2 separate regions of the Homo sapiens genome follow, and region 1 is linked to region 2. A link means that fine-mapping ties the variant in region 2 to the expression of a gene that starts in the linked region. Tissue or cell type: monocytes after interferon gamma. Region 2 holds a variant in brackets; the other region holds the start of a gene. All regions are shown on one strand. Distances are between the middles of the regions. Region 1 holds the start of MVB12B (multivesicular body subunit 12B). Region 2 overlaps MVB12B (multivesicular body subunit 12B).

Region 1 (9,523 bases), 30 kb before region 2:
TATTCCTAAGTGATGCAAATATGCTAAAATAAAAAATGATAGTCTCTGTGTAAACCATTCCCAAGACGTAGCCACTGTTAAACAGTTAACATTGGGTATATATTTTTTCAAGAATTTTATGCATATATGAATACATATAAATAATCACAAATACATATAAAATTGATGGGCTCATATAATAAATGCATTCTGTTCTAGAACCTCTTTTTTACTTAACAAAATACCATGATATATTTCTATGTCAGTACAGCTTTTTTAAATGACTCAATCTATTGCTAGACATTTAGGCTATGTCCAATATTTTCTCATTATAAGCAATGCTGAAATAATTATCCTTGAACATACATCTGTGTGCACTTGTCTGATTGTTTATTGTGGATAAATTATTAGACATGGACAAAGGGTACACACATATTAAATGTTGACACATCTATCTAGAAAATGTTTATTGAGGGGCTAGTATGTGTGGCACACTTATGCTTAGTGAACAGAACAGATATGTCTCCTGTCTGGGTGGAGCTATTTGTATGCTGGGAAGACTGACAGTTGAACAGGTTAACAAATAGTGGATGGTTCCAAATTGTGATGAGTGATAAGTAGGAAATGAACTAGTGGGGTATGGAAATAAAAGGGACCTACTTAGATAGATGACCCATGAAGGCCTCCAAGAGGGTGACATTTGAGCTGAGAGCTCAAGGATGAGAAGAGCCCAGACCCTATAAGACTGAAAAGAGTGCTGTAGGCAGAGTCACCCAGGGAAGAAAGAGCTTTGATGTTTAAGGATCTACAAGGAAGCCAGTTGGTTAGAATGGCTGAGAGGAGGATGGAGGGGAAGCTGGGTCCATATAGCATGGGACCTTGAAGGCTGTGCTGGAGCATTTAAATCTTATTTTATTTTATGGAAAGTCCCTGGAGGGCTTTAAGCAAGGGAGCACCTGCTGCATTTTTATTATTTATTTATTTTGTTTTATTTATTATTTATTTATTTATTGAGATAGGGTCTCACTCTATTGCCTAAGCTGGAGTACAGTGGCATGATCACAGATCACTGCAGCATCAACCTCCCAGGCCCAAGCAATCCTCCTACCTCAGCTGCCCGAGTAGCTGGAACTACAGGTGTGCCACACCATACAAAGCTAATTTTTGTTATTTTTCATAGAGATGGAGTTTCATCATGCTGCCCAGGCTGGTCTCAAACTCCTAGGCTCAAGCGATCCTCCTATCTTGGCCTCCCAAAATGCAAGGATTACAGGTGTGAGCCACTGCACCCAGCACTTATTATTATTTTTTTATTTTAAAAAAGTATTTATTTATTTTTTTAGAGACAGGGTCTCTCTGCCATCCAGGCTGGAATGCAGTGGTACAATCATAGCTCACTATAGCCTCAAATTCCTGGGCTCAAGTGATCCTCCTGCCTCAGCTTCCCAAGTAACTAGGACTACAGGTTCACACCACCATGTCTGGCTAATTTATTATTTTTTGTGGAGATGGAGTCTCACTATGTTTATTGATCTTGAACTCCTGGCCTCAAGCGATCTTCCTGCTTCAGCATTCTCCAAATGCTGGGATTATAGGCATGAGCCGCCATACCTGGCCTATTATTATTTGTTAATGATTGCTCTGGTTGCTACTTTCCATTGTTTGGGTAGGGCAAAGCCAGGAGACCAGTAAGGAAATTACTAGAGTGGTCTAGGCCAGAAAATATGGTTTGGAGTAGGGTGTATGAAATATACAAATTTGTATGCCTTATTTGTATACCTATATACAAATAGCTCAATAGATTAAAATGGATATTCCTATTATATACAATAGATGTATAATATACAATGGATATACCTATTTTTATAGGAATAGTTATTTAAAAATATACGCATTCTCAGCAAACTAACACAGGAACAGAAAACCAAGCACCACATGTTCTCACTCATAAGTGGGAGTTGAACAATGAGAACACATGGACACAGGGAGGGGAACATCACACACTGGGGCCTGTTGGGGTGTGGGAGGTAAGGGGAGGGAGAGCATTAGGATAAATGACTAACGCAAGCGGAGCTTAAAGCCTAGAGGACGGGTTGATGTGTGCCATGAACCACCATGGCACATGTATACCTGTGTAGCAAGCCTTCATGTTATGCACATGTATCCCAGAACTTAAAGTAAAAAAAAAACTATATCTACATCTATATCTATATCTATACACACAAATAGATCAATGGATAAAAACAAAGCATTTATAAACGGAACTTAATATATGACAAAAGTGTATATTCTTACACTAGTGGCCCATAGTTTCTTCTGAAGTTTTACATTATATTGTAATATTTGTTAGAGCAATATTTTCTCATTATTCTTCCATTTCAAAAATTTCATGGGTATTTCCTCATACTTATTTATCAAGATAAGTTTCTTGTTAGTTTTTTTTTGTTGTTGTTTGTTTGTTTGTTTCTGAGATAAGATCTTGCTCTGTTGCCTAGGCTGGAGTGCAGTGGCGTGATTATAGCCTACTGTAGCCTCAAATTCCTGGGTTCCAGCAATCCTCCCACCACAGCCTCCCAAGTAGCTGGGACCACAGGCACACACCACCATACCTGGCTCATTTAAAAAATCTTTTTAGAGACAGGGTCTCACTATGTTGCCCAGTCTAGTCGCAAACTCCTGGCCCCAAACAATCCTCCCACCTTGGCCTCCCAAAGTACTGGGATTACCAGCATGAGCCAACACACTCACGCCAATCAAGGTAAATTTTAAAATAATTTCATCATGTTCCATCTCACCTCACCCCTCAGATCATAGTGGTTTCTTGATCTGAATTTTACTAAATTTATAAAGTGAGTTGGGGAGACACAGCATCTTTGCACTGTTGAGACTTCCTGCCCAGGGATTTGTTATATTTTTCCGACTATTAAGATCTTCTTTTATGTCCCTCAGTCAGGTTTGTAGTTTTCTTTCCATGGACCTTCACATTTCTTGTTAAGCTTATGCCTAGTATATGCCTTATAGTATTCATTGCTAATGTGAATATGCTTTTTTTCCATCATACTTCCTAAATGGAAATAACTGGTATTTAGTGTTGTATTTGGAGGTCTCTGTAAGTAATACCTCCCTCCCTATTCTAAGTTTGGAACAAACTGGGGCATAGACACAGGAAAGAGACATAAGACAAAAATACTACCTTAATTTTTAATGAAGCTGACTGGAAAAAGTAGCTTTTGCTCTGTAGCTAAGTGGGCTTGCTATATTTCTCCCTGAATTGAGTAGATTTATTTGTGTAGTGGCGGGTGGTGCAGGAGAATAGTATCACTCTGTCCCTGAAACAGGTTCACTTAACCCACAGTGAGAGCGCATGGAAATATTTGCTCTCTGCAGTCAGCCAAATCCAAAAAGAGAACTCAGAAGCATCTATTCTTGTCCACTTTTTCCAAACTCACTCATCTTCCCTTAGAGTGGAGAGAGGCCAGAAGTCTTATTCTAATGGAAGTCCCTCTATATGGAAAAGAAGGCTTCTCCCTTCAATACCATAAGACAGGGTAAGGAAGAAAAAAAAGAATAATAATAATAATAATAATAATAATAATAAGAAGAAGAAGAAGAAGAAGAAGAAGGAAGGAGAAGGCTTCTCCCTTAACATTTAGGAAAACCATTGATTTTGGTGTTTATCTTATAACTGACCACCTTACCAAAGTCTCTATGATTTTTAGTTGATTTTTTTTATTTTTACTTTTTGGGAAACACTTAAATCATAAGCAAATAATGACAATTTTATCTCTTCCCTTCTAATATTTATATTTCTTATTTATTTTTCTTATCTTATTGCATTGGCTTTATTCTATAGCCATTATAGCAGGCATCCTTTTGACTGACTTACATGAGAATACCTTTAGTGTTTCACCATTAAATATGTTTGTTGATGGCTTCTGATAAACTTTGTCATGTTAAAAGTTTAAACTTTCTTCCTATAATAGTTTACTAAGAGTTTTTAGAAATTTATGGGTCATTAGTTTTGAAGTTTATAAAATACTTTTAAAGCATCTATCCCATTGATAATATCCTGTAATTTGTTTTCCTTTAACAATGCAATGCATTTACAAATTCCCTAATGTTGGATTTTTCTTGCGCCTCTGGAATAAATCTTGCTTGATCATGGTGGGTTTTCAGTTGCTTTAATAGTAAACTGGATTCAAATGGCTAAAATTGTATTTAATAGTTTTACGACTATTATATACTTAAATATATAGTGCAGATTCACATATTGAGGATTTATCAGTGAGCTTTAGAAGGTGGTCCTGGCTCAGATGAGTTTGGGAAATGCCAGGTTAAACAAACCAAACAGGTTTCTTTACTCCTGGACTTCACAGAGGCCTTCCTTAATATACGAATACTTATCGTGATTCTCCAAAAGGTACACTATAAACGGCATGCAGCACTTTCTCAAGTTGCCCACAGAAGCCCATTTTCAAAAAATAAATATTAAATTCTCTGGGGACTCGTGTTCTAGGTTAGTCATCTGCAGTTCTTTTTGGTATTGTCTGTTGGATTTTGGTATCAGGGTTATGCTAAACTTGGGAAATGAAATAAAAATTTTTGTTTCTTTTGTTTATTTTTTCCTGTGTAACAGTTTAAGTAACATAGGGATGATCTGTGCCCTGATGGGAGGATAAGGCTTGCTGTAAAGCCATCTGAACCCATGGCATTTCTGAGTAGTGAAGACACTGGGAATGCACACGTGCATGGCTTCCCTACAGGATGTTTCCCCCGACAGCCCATTCTGCTTGGCACCCTTCTCTTTAGGATCAAACAGCTATTATGGAAAAGCCTAGAATGTGTGAAAATGAGACTCAATGCATTAGCAAATCAATGCTGATCACTCCTGCATGGTCCTCAAGTCCTAACGAATGCTCCAGCCTCCTGGCAGGAAACCTTTCAAATCTTGCACACGCTGGCCTCTGCCTGGGGTGCCTGGCTGGGCGGTGTGGGGGGCATGGTTGGTTAAGGCGCAGAGTCCGCCTTTCCTACCAGCCACTCTAGCTGAGGGTCAAGCTCTGGACCCTCCCCCAACCATCCAGCTCCATTTTATCCTTGGCTTATGCCTTCCCCAAGTACTGCAGGGTAGGACTCCTGCTAAAAACTTCTTCTAGATGCTTGCCTGAGGCTGGCCCCATAAACCTGATTCTAGGCTTCTGGGGATAAATCATCTAACTAATATAAGAGAATTGCTAGGCAATTGGGGTTAGTTTGAGACGACTGGCTGAGCTCACCTTAGGTGAGCTGGGGGGTGGGGGAAGATGAGCTGAAGGATTCTAGGGTTCAGTGAAGCCTAGAATGGCTGGGTGGGCGGAGAGTCCTTAGAAGGGTCCAACTTCTAGCCTGAGGGCCTGGGGGCTTCCAGGGATCTGCAGCCGAGCGGAAGACCGGTCTTGCGTACAGCGAGGCCTACGAGAGCTAAGTGGGCTGAGGGTCCCTGGAAAAGACCAGCCTGGGGGCGGGGACCATCGATGCCCCAGGCTCTAGAGGCCGTGGGCTCCCGGGGGCCTGAGGCTGGACTGGGGTCGCCGGCGGGCTCGGGGAGGCCCGGGTGGGCGCACCGGGGCCCTGCCTGCGGCTGACGGGCTGGGTCGAGGGGGAGGCTGGGGAGGCGGGGTGCCGGCCGGGGCGGCGGCGCGGGCTCGGGACGCCAGGGCTCCCTCTCCCTCCTCCCGCCCGAGCCAGCCTCGGGCGCCGGGCGCCTCCCCCGATCCTGAACCAGCGCCAGCGCCGGGAGGCCCGGAGCCCGGCCCGCCGCCGCGGCCCGCGGAGGGAGCCGCCGCCGCCACTGCCGTTGTCGCCGCCGCCGCCAGGCCGCGCCCCGCCCCTCCGCCGCCGCCGCCGCCGCCGCCGCTCTCGGTGAGGCTCGCGCTCGAGCTGCGGCGCCGGCTCCTGCCGCCTGGGCCCCGGGCCCGGCCCCTCCCGCGCCGCCCGGGCGATGAGAAGCTGCTTCTGCGTGAGACGGAGCCGGGACCCGCCGCCGCCGCAGCCACCGCCGCCGCCGCCCCAGCGGGGAACAGTTAAGTGAGGCCCGGGCGCCGCGGAGGCTCGGCGGAGCCGGCCCTGCAGCCGGGAGGGCGGGCGGGCGGGCGCGGGCCCCCGGCCGAGGGGCGGGCGGACGGGAGGAGCCGGGCCGCGCCGAGGCCTGCGGGCTCCGTGCCCGGCCCGCGGCGGGGACAGGCCCGGGCGGCCTTTGCAGAGCCCCGAGCGCGCCGCGGCTGCCGGTGCCCGGGCTCGGCCTGGCGGCGAGAGGCGGGAGAAGCTGGGGGACCCGAGTGCCAGCAGCGCCCCCAAGGCCCGGGCAGGTGAGGGGCGCCGAGAGCCACCTCTGCCCGCGTGAGAGGGAGGCGGCCCACCTGGGCACAGACTGGGAACAGTCAATCGTTTGACCGGCCTGGCCTGGGGTCCTGCTCTCTCTGGTCACGTGGGTGCAGACCAACGTGCACCTGCCCCAGGAGCATCACTGCCTCTGTGACCTGGGCACAGCAGAGAGGACACCTAAACCCTCAGGCACCTGTCTGGAAGGTGACATGCCCAGCCTGGGTACCCGAGACCCAGAGCACCCATCCAGGAACATGGTGGGCACGTCGAGCACCCTACAGTGACTCCAACACCAGCGAGACGGGAGGAGCAGGGGCTGGGACAAGAGCTGAGGCATGGCACCAGGGGACATCACATCCTCAGAGGCAGGCACCAGGGAACGGGGTAGACCCAAGAGCATCTTTTGTCCTCTTTGTTACCAACACACAACTGTTCTAAATCAGCAGCCCTTCTCACCATGAAAGATGAGACTCTTCTGTTCCCTGCCCCTCAACACCTCTTGCACAAGGCACTGAGGAAGACCACAGGAGGGCAAAAGGCAAATGGTGGTTGCCCCTTCCCTGCTTCCTGCCCCCACCCAAGAACCAGAGCCCACTCCGATTGCTGCCACAAAAGCAGACAGCAGACCAGCTCCTCTTAGGGGCCTTTGTCTCTCGTGGTTCCTTCTCAGTATAATCTCATTGTACATTTCTCGACAGCTGGCTGGATCTCATCTCGTTTTAACAGGGCTGGGAAATCTTATCAGCGGCACCAGGAAAGCTTAGAGAGTTAAAAAATAAGCTCTGTGAAGCCTTGACTAACTGAAAAACTCAATGTGCTAGGATGTTTAGTTACAGTAGATGGTGACACCTTTCTTGCTTGTTAGAAATCATGTGGGGTCCTTGGAGATACTGTACCATGCTCAGAATCTTTAAATAGGGCCTCAGAGAGATGAGGCTTCTGCTTGGGACCCGGGCTCCAAGCCCCATGGGAAGCAGTTGACGTGGCGATTACTGGTTCATTTAAACCTAAACTTACCTTCTGTAATCCATATTTTTCATTCCTTCCTTCTAGGCTTTAGGTCACACTCCTAATTTAGGTTCAAGGCATTTTTCTTGCCCTGTCTCCATCCTGCTAGGGACCTTTTACCACTTCCAACTGGAATGTTGTGCCATGGTTATGTGCAGGGAGTTTAGAATTAGCCCTCAGCTTAAGTCTTGGCTTTCCTACTTACTTTGTGCCCTTGGACAAATTATTGAACTTTTCTGAGTTTCAGTTTCCTCATCTGTAGAGTGAAACTAATGATAGTATTCATCTCATGGGATTATGGCGTGATGTAAATGAAATTTTGCAAGAAAAGTCTAGCTCAGTGCCTGCTACATGGCAAGAAGTCAGTAAACGGTAGGGGTCATTATGAGAGGTTTGTTAACGGATGAATGAGAGGAGTAGCTTATTTATTTATTTTTAGAGTTTCTTTCTGTCTGCTTTTTTTTTGGTTTTTGTTTGTTTTTGAGACAGGGTCTCACTGTCACTCAGGCTGGAGTGCAGTGGTACCATCATGGCTCACTGCAGCCTTGAACTCCTGGACTCAAGCGATTCTCCCACCTCAGCCTCCCAAGTATAGGTGCCTGCCACCACGCTCGGCTGTTTTTTTAAATTATTATTATTTTTAGTAGAGTTGGGGTCTTGCTATGTTGCCCAAGCTGGTCTTGAACACCAGAGCTTAAGTAATCCTCCCACCTTGGCCTCCCAAATTCCTGGGATTACAGGCATGAGCCACCACGCCTGGCCTATTATTTAGTCTTCAACGGGACAACCAGGAAGTGATGGTATAGTAGAAAGAACACTGGACTTGGATTTAGGAGCTTGAGTTTGACTCTCAGGCTACCTCCTGGACCCCAGGTGACCCTAGGGGAGTCACAGAACCTTTCTGAATCCCCATTTCTGTAATGTAAAAGTGTCTTAAGAACAAAGCCTACCCCATAAAGCTAATCAGTCAAGAAGAGCTGAAGGAGCTAATGTATGTGACTGCACTTGGCACTGCAGGAGGTGGCGGTCCTCATGAAATTTAAGTGTGCGATTCAGCATCCAGCAGCAGATCATGGTGTTTTTTTCAGGTCCGATGTTTATACAGTTTGTTGCGGGGAGAGCATTAAGAAAAAGAATACAAGAATATCCTGTGTTTGTACATGTTACAGAACCACGCCACCATGTGAGCACACTGCTGGATGCCCTCTCAGGGCCTTGGAAGGGGTAAGGGAGAAGTGTAGTCTCTATCCATTTCATGGAGGATCTTCTCCTGGGGGGATCAGAATCCAAATGGCATAGGCCCCTCTGTCTGAGTTTGCTGGAAGTGCTCCATACTCAAAGGGAGACATCCTTGCCACACTGCAAAATAATGATGGTGCTGGAGTCAAGCATGGGAAAAGTCGAAGGTGCTATTATGATGATGAAGATAACAAATGACTACATGGCTGGATGTGGTTAGGCTGAGCACACTGTGTTGCAGAGCCTCCTTTGCAGGTTGGGTTGTGGAGGGGAGGCCTGGGTTTCTTGAATAGACTCCTTCTCCCCAGGCTGCTCTGGCTCTCACCGAGGCCCACCCTGGCCAGCATTTCCCCAACCCACCCCGCCCCCAACCCCGGCTCTCCTTGGCCTTCTGCTTGCTGGGCTGCCCTAGGGAATCGTGGCTTCCCTGCGCTGTCTGCACTAGTTGCAGTGGGTTTGCCAGAGTCAGGTCTCCTGTCTCCGGCTGCCTGGGAGGCAAAGCCACTGCAGAGTGTGCTTGACATTACCTCCCTTGTTGGGGACATCCTGTGGGCATGCATTTGGTTTACTTGACACGCTTCTGGCGAGATGCAGAGCTTGTCCAGGCAGAAATGTGAGAGCCCTGTGGGCCTGGAGCCCAGGGGTTGCACATAGTAGCTTTGTGGCTCATACTTCCCTTAGGACTGGAGGGCCATCTTGTTGGACCTGTGGCAGGAGTCAACATGAGTTTGTTCTTTCTTTCTTTACACACACACACACACACACATACACACACACTTAAAAAAAACAGATTCTAATCAGCAGAGCAGAATATTCAAAAGAATATCCCCTGATCCTTTAGAAGAGAGAAATAAATGAGTTTGTAATGCACTAAATATGCCTGTGGTGTTGATGAAAATGCAGATTCTAGGACCTCATACTCAGACTTTATTGA
Region 2 (8,000 bases):
TCTGAAAAAGAAAGAAAAAAATGTTGTGTTTGTATTTATGAGGGATATTGATCTGTAGTTTTCTTTTTGTATACTGTCTGTCTGGCTTGGTAATACTAGATTCATAAAATGAATTGGAAAGTGTTCCATCCTCTTCTGTTTTCTGGAAGAGACAGTGTAGAATTAGTATTAATTATTTTTTAGATGTTTAGATGTGGAAGTCTGGGATCCTTACTCTGGCTTTGTTGGCATGGGTGGGTGTGGGGCCACAGTATTTTATGTGGCATTTGGCTGGGGTAGAGCAATTATTGTCTAAACATCTTCCCTCTTGCTAGGCTGCCCCCTGACTAGAGAAAGCAGGCTTCTGTTGTTTTTGTTTGTTTGTTTCTTTGGTTTTTGGTTTGTGTTTACTGCTGTTTCTGGGTTGCTGATTTCTTTAGCTTCAAGTCTGGGATATATGAGGCAGAAAGAAAACCACAGAACTCACCACCATGTTGTTCCCTGGGTCATGAGATCCCTAGCTGGTCAGACGGATTATTTCACCTTTCAGAGTCTTCTGGTGTTTGTTTGGTATAATTTCCAGTTTTTTTAGTTGTACTTACTGGGAAGATTAGGGAAAAGTATATTTACTCCATATTCCTGGAAGTGGAAGTACTGGCTTGCTTTAATTTTATGTTAATTCAGAGTTAGCCAGAGAATCTGTTTATTTCTAAGCCTGTCATAAATCTTTCCAAAACATTTATGTTTCAGCCTTAATATTATATATATAGGCAGGAAGTATGCTATTGTGTGCTTGTAAAATACTTGCTAGTTACTCCTTAAAGTATGGAAGACTCAAAATGCTGCGGAGCCATCTTTCTCAATTTTCGTAGTCCAGATTTATAGTATTAAAAGGCTGTTTGCAGGAGGGATTATGCAAATCAGGAAGAGGAGATGTGGCTGGAGATGAGGATTGTGGCTGGTGAGCAGTATTGAAAGGTGGAGACTACTGAAGAAGAGAAGAGTCCATGAGATGTCTCCAGGAAGGGGAGATGAGACTGGAAGGAAGGATCTGTTCTGGTTCTTGAAGTAGGCAGACATCCAGGGAATCTGTCAGCTCACTTCTGTCATTCATTCATTCATGTCTTTGTAAAGTATTGTTTTGTTTTAATAGTGCAAGTATTATACTGTATAAATACACTCTCACTGTAAAAGATTCAAGCAATAAAGCACTGTCACCTTCCCTTTCCCAGAGGTAATTATCGTTAACAGTTTGGTCTGTATCCCTCCAATCCTTTTCCCACAAATCTGCAAATACCTATTTATAGAGAGAGGCCCTATAGTTTGATGGTGACCTTGGTTAAGTTACTTTACCTCTTAGTGCCTCAGTTGTCTTGTCTCAAAAGTGAGGATTAATAGCAGGACTTTCCTCATAGAATTGTGTTGAGGATTAAATTAGCTAATGTTTGTAATGTATTTAACAGTGACTGGCAGTAGCGTGAGTGTTGTGGCTGTTACCTTAGTGTTATTATTATGTATTCTTATGCAGTACATAGTGTGCCTTGACTTTTCTTTTTCCCTTAACATTATATGTAAGAAGTCTCTCCATGTCATGACATGTCACTCAGCCTCTATTCTTCTACTGGTATGTTTCCCTACTGTAGAATAACTTAGTAACCACTGTGCTGCTGATAAAAATTTAGATTTTTCTTTTTGGTCTGTGAAAAGCAATGCTGATGATGAGTATTCCCATTCATACATCTCTGGGTGTGTGCTGGTGGATCAAAGGATGTGTACATTTTAAATTTCAGTAATTACTATACCAGGTAGCTTTTCAAAAATACTTCACCAATTTATATATACTCCTAGTAAACAGTATATCCAAATAGCTATTTACCCTTGTCCATACCATTACCCTTTATTGTCAGTCTTTTTATTACTTTTCAAAACTAGGAGCTCATTTTGCGAATGTGCAGTTCTGTGATTAGCAATAAGGCTGAGCATCTTTTCATGTTTCTTGGCCTTTTGCATTTGACTGTCAGTTTCCAGTTTTTGTAGCTGGCTCATATGGCTGGCTTTCTCTTCCTGGTTTCTAGGCTTCCCTTATATATTCTGTGTATTGGTTCTTTGCCTGTTATATATGTTACAGATATTTTTCTCTCGGACTGTCAATCTTTCAGTCTTGTTCATAGTATCACATTTTGTTGATATGTTTGTTCCTCTTATCAAAGTTTTGTTTCGTTTTTATGTAATCATATCTGTCAATCTTTTTCTTTCTTTCTTTATGATTGTTATGATTTGTTTGGTCTTAATTCTTTAAAAGACCTGTCTAGATGCTAAAACTAGGAGGTGATATTTTTATGAGAAACAGTGTATTTACAGAGTCTCAGAGTATCTTCCACAAAATAGTTGTTAATTACAAAGGAATAAAAGTGGGGAAACCCAGCAGATACCACTGTAAGCGAGTGATCCAAGTTAACATTACCAGTAATGAGACAATTAGATGTCATGTGCCTGCTGATATGCTACACTGAGAAGGACACAGCATGTAAATGACCACATGGATATGAAAACACATATATACACACATGCGTGGGAATGCAATGTATACATATATAAATACAGAGAAAGAAGGGGAAGCAAACATAGTAATGTTAACATTTTAGGGAATCTGGGGACAGGGTATATAGGAATTATTTGCATTATTTTTGTAGCCGATCTTGAAATATGAAATTATTTTTACATAAAAACTTAAAAAAATTAGAAACAAAAAAGCCTGACTACCTCAGGATAATAGAAATATCATCGATTTTCAGCTAATATACCGTCTATTTTATTGATTTGGCTTTTTAAACATCAGATTTTTATTTTGGAGTGGAGTATAAAGTGGAGTCTAACTTATTTTTTTCCAATTGTGTAGCTATTTTCTGAACACTGTCTTCTCCCTGTGGTTTTGATGAGCTGCATTTGTCATATGCTAGAGGTCTTTGCATATGCACAGATTTATGCTGATTAGAACGCTCGTTTCCTATCCCACAGATGAAACCCACGGCAGCTTCTTTTTCCTTAATATAGGGCCCTTATGCAGGGAATACAGGACATAGGGGAAAAAGAAATAAACTTTATTACCACCTCCTTCTGACCCCTGATGACCCCAAGCCAGACTCCAGCTAGCAGGTGAGGGGCTGATCCTGGAAGCCCCATCCTAGGGGTCTGCGGAAATGCTGGGTGGGCTTTGCCCTTCAGGCTGGGATGTGAGGCCCACGTGCATAGAGGTTGTAGTAGATA[T/C]AACAGCAGCTACACTGCAGCAGGCCCAGGGCCAGGGGCATAAACAATACTCAGGTTAGGTCAAGTCATACCACTAACAGCAAATCATGCCCTTAACATTCAACGCTACTTTTCTGCTTAAATTTAAAGTACTGCATTATGAGGGCGTTGCAACATCTTGCTTATAACTTAAGGCCTGCTGGCTTCAAATGATTTAGGAAGCAGCCTGCTGACCACAGGAAGAAATCTTGTTGTCGGGTGGCATTTGCTTGGGCCCCAAAGAGAGGGATTTTCCAGAATGTTTTTAGGCCGCATTCTCTTTAATTAATCAATTTAACCTATTCTTCTACAATAGCCCACTGTTTCAGTGATTGCAGGTTTATAGCATCGTTTTTGAAGTTAGCAAATTGTTGATTTTCTAAAAACTGAGGTAAAGTAACATAAAATTAACCATTTTAAAGTGAACAATTTAGTGGCATTTAGTACATTTATAATGTTGAACAACCACCACCTCTATCTAGTTCCAAAACATTTTTATCACCCCAAAAGGAAATCCTGTACCCATTAAAAGTTGCTCCTCATTCTCCCTTCGCTGCCTTCCTCTGGCAACCACCAATCTGTGTTCTGTTGCTATGGGTTTGCCTATTCTGGATATTCCATATAAATGGAATCATATAAGATGTGACCTTTTTTGTTTGGCTTCTTTCACTTAGAGTCATGTTTTCAAGGTTTTTAGAATATATTTTAATGTCTGCTAGAACTATTTCCTTCCTTCTCCTCTTTTTCAAAATTGTTTTGGTTACTACCACATGTTATTTTTTCTAAAAGAACTTTAGATTCAACTCGTCAAATTGCACAAAATACTATGTTTTGATCCTCAGTGCAATTGCAGTGGGTAATAAGTTGATTTGAAGGGATTCGACATATTTGCAATACTGAGTTTTCCTATCTGGGAGCATGATTTGGGTACTTAGGTCTTGTTTTGGTACTTCTTAGTTAAGTTTTAAAGTATCCCACAGATGTTTTGTCATTTCTGTTATTGTACGTACGTGTTTGGTTTCTGTTGCGCATGGATTTTTTTGATAGCTTTATAATTGACATACAATAGACTGCATATATTTAGAGTGTATGATTTGATGAGTTTTGGAGTATGTATGTAAATGTCTGGGACACCATCATCACAGTTAAGATAATGAACATGTTCATCACCCCTAAAAGGTTCCTCCTACCCTTTTACAATGCATCCCTGATTTAGTTTGGGTATTTTGTCACCCTGTATCTCATGTTGAAATGTAATCCCCCGTGGTAGAAGTAGGGCCTGGTGGGAGGTGATTGGATCACGAGGGCGGATTTCTCATGGTTTAGCATTCCCTTTGGGTGCTGTCCTTGAGAGAGAGAGTTCTCGAGAGACCTGATCATTTAAAACTGTGTGGCACCTGCCTTCATTCTCTCACTGCTGCTCCTGCTCTGGCCATGTCACATGCCTGCTCCCACTTCACCTTCCTCCATGAGTAAAAGCTCCCTAAGGCCCCCCAGAAGCCAAGCAGATGCCGGTGCCATGCTTGTATAGGCTGTAGAACCATGAGCCAATTAAACCCCTTGTCTTTATAAATTACCTAGTTTCAGGTATTCCCTGAGACTAGCAATGCAAGAATGGCCTAATACAAGCCATCACTCCCCCAACCCCACTTCTAGGAAACCGTTGGTCTACTTACTTTCTGTCACTGTAGTCTAGGTTGCATTTTCTAGAACTTTATGTAAATTCTTTATTTTGTCTGGCTTTTTTCCTCTCAGAATAATGATCTTGAGATTCATTCATATTGTTGAGTGTGTCCTTGTTTGTTTGTTTAATGAGTAGTGCTCTGTTGTACACCTGTATGACAGTTTACCTGTTGAGGGTTATTTGGCTTGTTTCCAGTTTGGGCTATTAAAGTAAAGCTGCTGTGAACATGCATATGCAAGTCTGTGTGTGGACATACACATTCATTTCCTATGGATAAATACCTAGGAGTGGAAGGGTTGGATTGCACAGTAGATGCATGTTTAACTTTAAAAGAAACTGCCAAATTATTTTCCAAGTGGTTGTATCATTTTATATCCCAGCAGCCGAGCATCTGAGTCTCAGTTCTTCCACATCCTTGCCAACACTTGAGATAGTCATTCTTTTAATCTTAACCATTCTAGTGGATGTGTATTTGTTTATGATTTTAGTTTGCATTTCTCTAACAAGTAATGATTTTGAGCTTTTTTTTTTTTGCCATTAGTATAACTTCTTTGGTGAAGCATCTGTTCAAATTTTTTACCTGCTTTTCACTGGGTTATTTGTCTTATTCAGTTGAAAGGGTTCTTTGTATATTTTAAGTACAATTCCTTTGTTGGATATGTATGAACTATTTTCTCCCAGTCTGTAGCTTGCCTTTTCATTTTCTTAACAGTATTTTTGAAAAGCAAAAGTTTTAAAATTTGATGAAGTCTAGTTTATTTTTTTTCTTTTATAGTTAGTGCTTTTTGTGTTACATTTACTAAATCTTTGCTAGCCCTAAGGTCAAGATTTTTCCTTCTAATCCCTTCTGGAAGTTTTATGGTTTTAGTTGTTATATTTAGATCAATGATGTATTTCAAGTTAATGGTTATATGTGATATGATATATGGATCAAATATCATTTTTTATATATAGCTGTCCAATTGTTCTAGTACCCTTTCTTTAAAAATCATCTGTTCTTCATTGAATTACTTTGGCACTTATGTCAAAAATCAGCTGATCGTAGATGTATAGGCACATTGCTAGACTCTGTTTTATTCCATTGATCTATAAGTCTGCCTGTATGCCAAACCCATACTCTTTGATTACTGTAGCTTTGTAATAATTCTTAACACCAGGTAGTCTTTTAACTTTATTCTTTTTCAAAGTTATTTTGGTCGTTCTAGGTCCTTCAAATTTTAATACAAATTTAAGAATAAGCATGTCAATTTTTACAAAAAAAAAAAGCCTTCTGGGATTTTGATTGGAGTTGTATTAAATGTGTGGGTCAATTCGCAGGTAGTTGACATCTTAACAATATTAAGTCTTCAGATCCATGGATGTGGTACATCTCTTCATTTATGTAAGTCCTCTTTAATTTCTCTCAGCAGTCTTTTAGTTTTAGTGTAAAGTCTGCAGATCTTTTGTCTAATCTTTCAGGCATTTCATATTGTTGATGCTATTGTAAATGGTATTTATTTTTACTTTAACTCCATTCTTGTTGATAGAAATACAATTGATTTTTGTAGATTGACTTGGTATTCTGCAATCTTGTTAAACTCACTTATTAGTTCTTATAACGTTTTTGAATATTTCTTACAACTTCCTATGTAGATAATTATGTTGTGTGTGAATAAAAACAATTTTACTTCTTCCTTTCCAGTCTGTATGCCTCTTATTTCTTTTTGTTGCCTCCCTGAACTGGCTAGAGCATCCAGTACACTATTGAGTAGAAGTAGTGAAATCAAGCATTCTTGCCTTTTCCCAAATCTTAGGGGGAAAGCATTCGGTGTTTCACCATTTAAATATGGCATTTGCTGTGGATTTTGAAATAGATACTATTTAACAGAAAGTACCCTTCCAGAGGGTTTTTAAATCATACATGGATATTGAATTTCATCACATGCTTTATCTGCTTTTATTGAAATTATCATATGGATTTTCTCTTTTTAATTTTAATTTTTTTTTTTTTTATGGAGACAGGGTCTCACTCTGTTGCCCAGGCTGGTATCCAGTCTCAGCTTCCCAGAGTGCTAGGATTACAGATGTGAGCCACCATGCCCAGCCTGGGTTTTCTCTTTTAATCATTTAATATAATGAAATACACTGATTGATTTTTGAGTGTTAAACCAAACTTCCATTTCTGGAATAAATCCCCCATGGACATAATAAATTGTCCTTTTAATATATTGTTAGATTCAATTTTCTAAAATTTTGTTAAGAAATTTTATGTGTATGTTCATAAGGAATATGGATTGGTCTGTGGTTTTCTTATAATATCTGGTTTTAGTATTAGGGTAATACTGGTCTCATATACTGAGTTGAGAAGTGTTCCTTTCTTGCCTGTTTTCTGAAATATTTAATGTTTATTTGGTATTATTTATTCTGTAAATATTTGCAGATTTTACCAGTGAGGCTCTCTGGGCCTGGATGTGGGAAGGTTTTTAAACAACAGTTCAATTTTTTAAATAGATGTAGTGTCATTCAGGTTATCTATTCTTAAATGAGCCTTGGTAGTTTGTGTCTGCTAAGGAATTTTTCATTTAATTTAATTTTTCTAATTCCTGGGCATAAAGCTGTTCAAAATATTTCCTTGTTATCCTTTTAATGCTTCTAAGATCTGGAGAATGTACTCTCTTTTATTCCCAATAATGGTAATTGGTGTCATCTCTCTTTTTTTCTTGCTCAGGCTGCCATCCTGGATCAAATAGTAGTTCTTTTTTTAGTTCTTTCCATTTTATTTTTGGTTATAGTCTTAGTTTTATCAATTTAATCAATCTTCTCAAAGAACCAGCTTTTGGTTTTATTGACTTTTTCTATTCTTGTTTTTAACTTTATTGTGTTCACTTTTTAAAATTTTTTCTTCTGCTTACTTTGGGTTAAATGTTCTATTGTTTAAGGTGGAAGTTTTGGTCATTGATTTGAGACCTTTCTTCTTTTCTAACATAAGCATTTAATGCTATGAATTTCCCTCCAAACTCTGAATTAGCTGCATCCCTCAAATTTTGTTGTGTTGTATATAATTTTAATTCCA

The links. PIP is the estimated chance that this variant, and not a neighbour inherited with it, causes the effect.
Region 1: MVB12B starts here. The variant in region 2 is fine-mapped to the expression of MVB12B in monocytes after interferon gamma (Fairfax 2014, PIP 0.95).

The regions. Positions count from the first base shown.
Region 1 is chr9:126,320,971-126,330,493 of GRCh38, forward strand. It overlaps MVB12B (multivesicular body subunit 12B), which reads left to right and starts at 5,859. Exons shown (of 10, transcript NM_033446.3): 1 at 5,859-6,040. The coding sequence starts at 5,960. RefSeq lists a silencer at 5,844-5,983 and an enhancer at 6,425-7,076.
Region 2 is chr9:126,352,137-126,360,136 of GRCh38, forward strand. All of the region lies in intron 2 of MVB12B (multivesicular body subunit 12B), which reads left to right. Among named protein-coding and RNA genes, the nearest start is that of MVB12B, 29 kb to the left of the region's middle. The variant T/C (reference allele first, on the strand shown) is at 3,247.